Regions from separate parts of the Homo sapiens genome. Here region 1 is linked to region 2. The links come from fine-mapping of genetic effects on gene expression. A gene starts in region 2. The other region holds a variant in brackets. All regions are shown on one strand. Distances are from middle to middle. Region 1 overlaps SERPINI2 (serpin family I member 2). Region 2 holds the start of SERPINI2 (serpin family I member 2).

Evidence for each region. PIP is the estimated chance that this variant, and not a neighbour inherited with it, causes the effect. A credible set is the group of variants that fine-mapping cannot tell apart.
Region 1: its variant is the best candidate, but not a certain one, in a credible set for the expression of SERPINI2 in nasal epithelium (TOPMed, PIP 0.77).

The regions. Positions count from the first base shown.
Region 1 is chr3:167,444,482-167,448,899 of GRCh38, forward strand. SERPINI2 (serpin family I member 2) reads right to left here. Exons shown (of 9, transcript NM_006217.6): 8 at 1,911-2,000. Among named protein-coding and RNA genes, the nearest start is that of SERPINI2, 27 kb to the right of the region's middle. The variant G/A (reference allele first, on the strand shown) is at 1,700.
Region 2 is chr3:167,472,103-167,476,454 of GRCh38, forward strand. SERPINI2 (serpin family I member 2) reads right to left here and starts at 1,940. Exons shown (of 9, transcript NM_006217.6): 1 at 1,901-1,940. It overlaps LOC105374197 (a long non-coding RNA gene), which reads left to right. Exons shown (of 3, transcript XR_924683.3): 3 at 2,270-2,358.

The sequences.
Region 1 (4,418 bases), 28 kb before region 2:
TTTATGTATACCATGAAGCCATTTAATAGTTCACTATGGTGATGCTAAATCACTATCTTCATTAATCTCAATGATTTCTTGAGTTCATTTGTGAGAGAAAAATTGATAAATCACTAAATATGTATTGTCTTAAGATAACGGCCCTTTCTACATTTTATATGGCAACAACGGACAGTCCCTGATAAATGAGCGGCCATTTATTTTAAACAATACTTTAAAGGAGTAACCCTAGTTTAGAAAGTCTCACTACAATAAAGAACATAAAACAGTTCAAACTGTCATTAAGACCTGCTAGTTAAGCATTATCACAAATAAACAGATAAGTGGGTTATTTTGGGTTTTGAACTTTTGCTGCTGTTTTACTGATAGCTGTTACTTGGCCTTTGCATATAACAAGTCATCAACCTGGAAAATAGAGTAAAACATAATTATTCTAAATGCCATTATTTACTTGTGCATTGATGCCCAATGTAGCTTTTTTTCTTTCTGTCTCCATACTACATAATTATATATTAATTGTAAAAAATTAGAATTATCTAAAGGTTAGACAGACACATAGATCAAATGACATACTTAGAATACATTTGAACACTGACACAGCCATTACTAGAATTGAAGTTGTGTTAATGCAATCTCATCAATTCTAAAACTGTTTCATTGTTTTTAAGATATGACTTTCAGAAGGGTCTCTCAGCATTAGTTTCATGGAGCCAAAAAAGAGTGAAGTATCCCTTACTGGGCCAATAATATCAGTATCGCTAGTTCATCTAATAGATTCAGATTCTGCAATTAACTATGTCTCTTCTCCCTGTAAATGACTTTAAACTTTTTCACTTGCCTTTCTTCTTTTATTCACTCCCTCATTCATATTTATTAATTTATTCATAATGAACACTTAGTATGTGCCAGGCACAGTGTTACAGGCTTCAAAAATTCTTTTATTTAACTCTATGAGATGAGCACTACTATTATGTTCAAATAAGATATAGGGAAAATGTGGCTTAGAAAGGACAAGCAACTTGTTTCACAACTGTTAGTGAATTCAGCTGGAAATTGAGCCCAACCCAATTTCACACCCTCTGTCTATAGGGAAACTGATACTATGTGCAAGGCATTTTGCCAAATATTGGCCTGAATACAGAGATGAGTAAAATATAATTTCTACTATCCTGTGGTATGTAACTCTCACATGAGCATTATGACTGCTGAAGGATCCTAAACATAAACTTGACAATTTTCCCACTGTATTCACATTTCTGGCTTCTCTTACTCACAAGAGAAAGTGCTGAAGCATCCATCCAGACAATCTGAATTTCCCTGTGTTGACACTGTGCCCAGTGCTAATCCAATCCACTACTTCTACACTCCCTTTACCTAACTGCATCATCTTTCACCAGTTGCCCAAGTTGAAGATTTGAAATTACCTTTGACTCCTTCCTATCCCTCAGAACCTACATTAGTCACTTACTGTTTTGGTATCCACCTCTGAATTCTTTCACAACTCCACACCTCTCAATTTCCATCCCCAATGTGGCATCATACACAGACAGTTGACCTTTATTCCCACTCTGACACTTTCTAGCTACGTAACCTGAGACAAACCATACAATCTTTCTCTGAGCTTTTGTTCTTTACTAGTCAAATATCTAATCTTCTGGAGTGGTTTTAGCTTTACTGATGGTTATATGAAATGGCTACC[G/A]CATATAGTAGCCATGATGGCAGCCATTATTACCACTGCCCTATTTTAGGCCTCGGTCATCTCTTAAAATACAATTCCTGGTATATAAAATGCACTTAACAAATATCCACTGAAAGAACAAATGACTTCAGATATGTACATTGCAATTAGAAACTGGAACTAGTTCTGCTTAACATAATCAGTTCCCCCAAATAATTCTCAAAAAAGGTACCTGTTGGATTATGCTTCATAATAAACAGAAATGGATGATTTGCTATAAATTGGCTTTGAGCCAGACTCATGATCACAGGGATGTGTATGCCTATAAAATAGAGACAACAGTTATTTAGATACTTGCATTAAAAGATCAGTAAAGAAAGTATATTCATAATACATTTTGTAGACAGGAAAAGTCATTTTGTGTAAGGAGTTAACATGTGGAAAAATAACCATTTTCTAAATACAGAGGAATTTGCAATAAATTTAAAAACCAAAGTACTGAAGAATAAATATTAGGTCACTCACAGAATAATTCTAACTTTATATGTATGCTCAATGAAGAAGCAAGCCAGATACCAGATTCAATTTAGTGAAAGCAGTTGAAAAAATTTATCTTTTAAACAGTAATTTTCTGTTCACTTTTTATTTGCATTATATGATTTATTTCTACAATGTTTGTAATTCCTAATTCCTATTTAGGTATATTTGCACTTCGGGTTTGTGGTAATCACATCTGAGCTCAAATTAATTTTTTTTTTTACTTACTCTTTCAAAATTATTCTGTGAGCTCAGAGCTTTTAGGATTTGTGCAGTGAATGTGTGTGAGATTTTTATTATGAGATTTGAAGCAGAAATTTGCTGCCTTAAAAATTACTTTCTATGATTATTTATATTATGTTGCTCCATTACAGTATTTGTCAATATTTAGAATAGGAAAATATAAAAAGTTAGATATTTTTCCTATCTAGATTAAATGTTTTATGCTTAATTCAGATACTGTATTTCCCAATAATTGAATTATTTTGTACTGTTATTTTCAGACCCCAGGAAAAATAAAATCACTATGTATCATTAGAATTATAAAACAGTCAAATATAATCTTAGTATGATAACATGATTGGCACTCTCCTATCCAGAATATCAAGGGTATACCTAAATAACCAGTGAATATAGGCTCATGTCTGAATTACTACGATAAATCCAAAAGCAAGATCAGTTTTACTCCCATTCCCATTTACAGTGAATACTTGGACTTTTTTTGCTTTTGAGCAGTCCGTGAGTGGATTTCTGAAAGTCAAAATACCCAGACTGACTATTCTGAGGAGTTTTACTTTGATTCATCTACCTTCTCTTAATGATTGTTACAGAATCCTAGAAAATTTTAGACTTAAAATGAGAGACAGTGGGCAATAACATAAAGAGCTCTGAACTTAAAGTCAGGGAACATGAGTTGCGTTCAAATTCTGCTGTCAATCAATAATATGGCCTCAGGTAAGCCACTTTACATTGCTGGGCCTGTTTCTTCACCAATATAATGAGATCAAACAATAATCTATAAGGACTCTCTCAGTACTGTTTGAAAGCAGCTGGAAAATTTGTCTACATGATCCAGCAATTTCATCCAAATATAACCTTTTGACTTCTTCAAAGATTAATATAGTTCATCCCCTACAATCCAAGTTCCTTGAGCACAGCAATGCAAGATCCTTCAGGAGATGACAAAATTGTAAGGGAGTCCAGTGTGTTTCATCCAGATGTCAAAATCCATTGGCCCAATGCAGCATTGCAAATTAATCAAGAAATTAATAAATGAATATCAATTTTTATATATTTATCAGTAAGACATTGAAATGATAAATAGCTTTTAAATATTGATTAAAATCCAAATAGTATGGGGAATTAAAATAGACTTACAAGGAATTCATTAAAGTTGCTTGTCCATTTATAATTATTTTAGGGCTTTTTTCTAATTATTTTTCAAGCATTATTTATATGCAGCACAGATGCTATTTAAAATGTCATTTGTTCAAGGAAATATGGCCTAGAAGAGTGGTTCTCTAACTAGAATGTACATACAAATTTCCTAGTGATCTTGCAAAATACAGATTCTGATTCAGTCGGTCTAGGGTTTGGATCTGAGATTTTGCATTTCTAACGAGTTCCCAAGTGGTGCTGTTGTTGGTCTATGCACTACATTTGTAATAAAAAAGGCAAGCTGCAAAGCACTATGGAGCACTGGTTCTTCCATGCACATTGATATCACTTAGGAAAACCTATGAAAATTTTGGAGTCTGGATTTCACTTCCAGAAATACTGATATAATTATTTTGGGGTGTGGACTGGGCATAGGAGTTTTGTTTTGTTTTGTTTTGCTTTGTTTTGAGATGGAGTCTCGCTCTGTTGCCCAGGCTGGAGTGCAGTTGCGCGATCTAGGCTCACTACAAGCTCTGCCTCCTGGGTTCACGCCATTCTCCTGCCTCAGCCTCCCGAGTAGCTGGGACTACAGGCATCCGCCACCACGCCCGGCTAATTTTTTGTATTTTTAGTAGAGACGGGGTTTCACCGTGTTATCCAGGATGGTCTCAATCTCCTGACCTCGTGATCCACCCGCCTCGGCCTCCCAAAGTGCTGGGATTACAGGCGTGAGCCACCGCGCCCGGTTGACTGGGCATAGGAGTTTTTAAAGCTTCCCAGGTGATTTTTATGTGCAGGTTAAGTTTGAGAGCCACTGCCACAGAGA
Region 2 (4,352 bases):
TGTTGGAATGTTATCAATGGCAATGGTATCTCCAAATAGTTATACAATAGTTTTTTTCTATCTTTTCTCATGGTTAAGTGGGATAACTGTAACTCTGACATCAGGTAAACCTTCTGTGCTGTCTACTCTACAGTAATTTATAGATCAAGAGGAAGAAATGGAATAAAAACAGACTTACTCCAGTGTGGTTTTAGACCTATAATATTAGAAAATTAATGTATTCTAAAGCAACTGAGTAATCTGGCTAACTTTTTACAATTTTCCTCACGCTTTATTTCTTAGGACAAAATAACCCAAAGCCCTCTTCCTGCTTTTCCAAAAGAAGACAAATACAATGCAGAAAACCTGCAAAGTTTGAAACAAAATGGCAATCAAATATAAATGATACAATAAAGTACTATGCTCACTACCTGGGTGATGAGATCATTTATACCCCAAACCTTAGTGTCAGGCCATATACCCATGTAGCAAACCTGCACATGTACATTAATCTGTAATAAAACTTGAAATTATAAAAGAAAAAATATAAATAAAATGAAATATAATATCAAAGAATTGACAGAAATACTAACAAATGTAAGAGTAGCAGCAATTAAAAACCATAAACAATTCACAAGACTAATAATACCCTATTAAAGTGCTCTCCACTAAAATTGCAGGAAATTCAACCATTTGATTATATCTCAAGCAGAATTAGTTTTGCAATATTACCACATATTTGGTAGAATGTTGACTCCAAGGCCTCATAAATTTTAGTAACAATAATTTTACCTTATAAATAATACATGTTAGTAATCCTTAAAAACTTATCCATCAGTAAGTTACTAGGAAGTAACCCTTAATTAGGGGTAAAGATGAAAGCCTTTAGAATAGTCTGTTGTCAGCCTTAAGTAGAGACTTACATTTCTAGAGTGTTTTGCAGATCATTAAGGGTACCATAAATGGTAGGAGTCCCTAAGAACAACTATATTTATATATAAAGATTACTAATAGTCAAATATTGTTCCAAATTAAACTATGGAGTCATTATTTATCCTTCAATGTATTTTGTTAAACTGTATTTGTTTAGATATATATTTGCAAAAGACAAAAGCCTCAAAAAACAATCCAAAGCAATTGTTAGAAAATGTGTTGGTAAACTTTAGATATAGACCTATATGCTATTAATATCAAGCAAATGTTTCATTAGGGATTAATTTAGCATATGAGCTTATAAATGAGAGTGCAACAATAGTTAAAAACCAGTGAGTAAGAGAAGTTTTACATGCAAAATAAATGTCTGTGTATCATTATCTTCTAATATATTCAATTTCTCAGAAGACTTCTGACCAAAATATGTGTTTGTAGATACGTAGTCAAAATGTTATTAGTACCTTTAAGTTATCAACTGGAAATACATTAGATATAGCTTTATGTATTTGGTTTATATTGGAATAATGAACAGTATTATTAAAAATGTAATTTTTTTCTTTGTGGTAGAATCTCAGTATTAGAGTTTCCTTCTCATTATTATTAATAATCTTAATAATTAAATTTATATTATTTGAGCATCCACATCCATTTTTTCTAGAAAATTTCTAAGCACTTAATAAATTATAACCTCAGACAAATATTGGTTTTAAAAACTCACTTACCTCATCAGGTTTTGGATCATATCTTATCAGAAAGCACAAAGTAATGCTGAACTAAACAACCTGATGAATAGTCCTATAAGAACTGGATCTTCTGATTTGTGGTGAAATCATTTAAGGAGAATAAAAGCGATATGTTAATTAAATAAATTCAAATGATTTTTACACCAAAGTAAATTGAAATGCCATTCCATACTCTACTAAACATTCATAGGCAATGTTATTGCATACATACTTATTCAAAAGCTATTTATTTCTAAGGTACTTACCCCAAACTGACTTCTGATTATTCACTGGAATGTTACAACTAAAATACGCTTGCTGGAAAACTCTTGTACATAAACACCTGAGCGATCAAGGCCAACTCCATTTATCTTGACCATTGCTTGATTAATTCCTCTAGAACAAAAGCAGGTGTTCACTACATTTGTATTAAGAACTAACACAATCGGGTTAATGATCAACTGATGAAATGTGCAAGAATTGAGAAAAAAACAATTATAGAATTTTTTAAAAGTATTAAATTTATATTATTATTTTATCCATTATTTTGCTTCTTTTAAAAGTTGCACAGAATTTGAAAGGATGCGCTACTGGTTGTAAATTTGCTAGTAATTAGTTCTTTTTGTTTCTCACAGGACTCCTACATCAGATTACCAATGCACTTTGTCATAAATATTTCAGAATGCCTATGAGAAAAAGAATAAAGCTAAATCAAGTCCAGAATACAGAGACAAATCACTGCTGCATTGACAGAGTTCTCAACATTCATCAAATTATACAATAGTCAGAGGAGTTTCCTGTGGATATAAGGTCCATTTGAATCCTTAAGAAAAAGAGTGGATATTGAAGAAATATGTTCTTTATTCTGAGCAGAAAGGCCAGCAAAAAAGATAATGGATTTGCCAAAATATATCAGGACAATACTATTAGCCATAGGTAATTGGATGATAAAAATTGCTGTTACCTTTATGTGCTTTTGAAACTCTACATGATTTTCTTTGCAAAAAGGTCATTAATAAAAAATTGCATAATTTAATGGGTTTCATCTCATTTTTGTAGTTCAAATCAATCACCTCAATGGCAATCAGATATTAAGCACATTGTATTATTTATCTATAGCCTTTGAGAAGAGAAAAAAAATTTAGTTCACTTTTAATTAAATATCTGTTGATCCCCAAATTTAATACTATTTCTGATAAACTCATGTAAAAGAAATAAAGTGAATATAGATAGCTTTAAATGGAATTCATTTTTAAAAACTTGTCAGAGGACCCTGTTAACATCTTTCCATGTCCTAACATGGCTATAACTTAAAAATAGGCCTGAGAATAGATCATTATAGGCCATAATCTACTAATTAACTAAAATTTTTTGATTTCCCATATAGGCATCTCCAAATGTTTTCTAGATCTTGAGTTTTATTCTAATATTACCTACTCTATCATAAGCACACTCTAGTGTAGCTTTAACTTAACACAGAGATAATTTTCCAAAAAGAGTTGTGCAATACAAGAATACTATCATTCTACTTGCTTCACACTGCAATACATAAATATTAAGTCTGAATGTCAAGACTATCATTCAATCAATGCTTTTCTACCCATTTACTGACACCAGCAAACATATATCACCAGTACCCTTGGCTACCACATCATTATGTCTGTACACTGCTCAGATCACAATGTGATTTATCCAGAAATAGTCCATTACTTTTCCTACCAATGGCAGAGACCGTCACTCTGTCCTACTAAGACCATTTAATGAAATTGTTCTGTAAGGACCTTATATTAGAGCAGTTCAGGCAGAATGTTCATTTTCCTGTCTCTTGAGGAGTAAAAAGCAATAGCCATAAATTTATTCTCCCTGGTTTAACCTCTTTTAATAGACAATGACGACAATACAATTGTCCATAAAATATTACCACAAATTTTTAAAATATTTTCCCAAACCGCTTTTTTCTACAATTCTATTTTGCTCCTAGAAAATCGGGGTGGGGGGAGAATTATTCATTAATGAGAGCCAACGTGTCTTGGTAGAAGGTTGATCGCCATTACTGTCCGACTGTAAAGTATAAGCCTAGGAATATATATAAAAACCACAGCAAAGGGTTACAGTTATCATCTCATCAATTTTCTTATCCTTTTATAGTTTTTTCAAGTAAAAGTGCACTTAATTCCAAACTTTAAAAATGTATAAGCAAATGCCCTCATCAGTAAAGAACTTAAAAGTTAATTCTTCCATTTAAGCATGGACTCATTTCAGGCAATTTTTTTTGGTAAGATTGTTCCTAAATTTTGAGTGATAATAGGAAAATGTTCTGACAAAAGAAAATGTTAAATTATATTTAGTGTAAATATAAGTAATACAAACAAGGTAGCCTATTGAAAATTATGACATATCCTATTTTAATGTGACCAATTCCTTTTACCACAGAAAAATGGATCATAAGTAATTGAATCTGAATGTTAATTTCAGAAACAGTTTATAATGCCTTCAGTTCTGTTAAGAGTTGACAGGTGAGATCCTGCTACCTGCCTAGAAAATTAGATGCTGTGAGTTACAAAAGAAGAGTAAGACACAGAAAAAAAGACATTGTCTTTTTTCTTCTTTTTGTGTTTTTTCTCCAAATTATTAGAAACAGTTACCTTGAAAGTCTCATACCTTTAAAAGTTCTCTTCTCATTGAATATATTTATGAGACAGCTCTTCTTAATTCCTT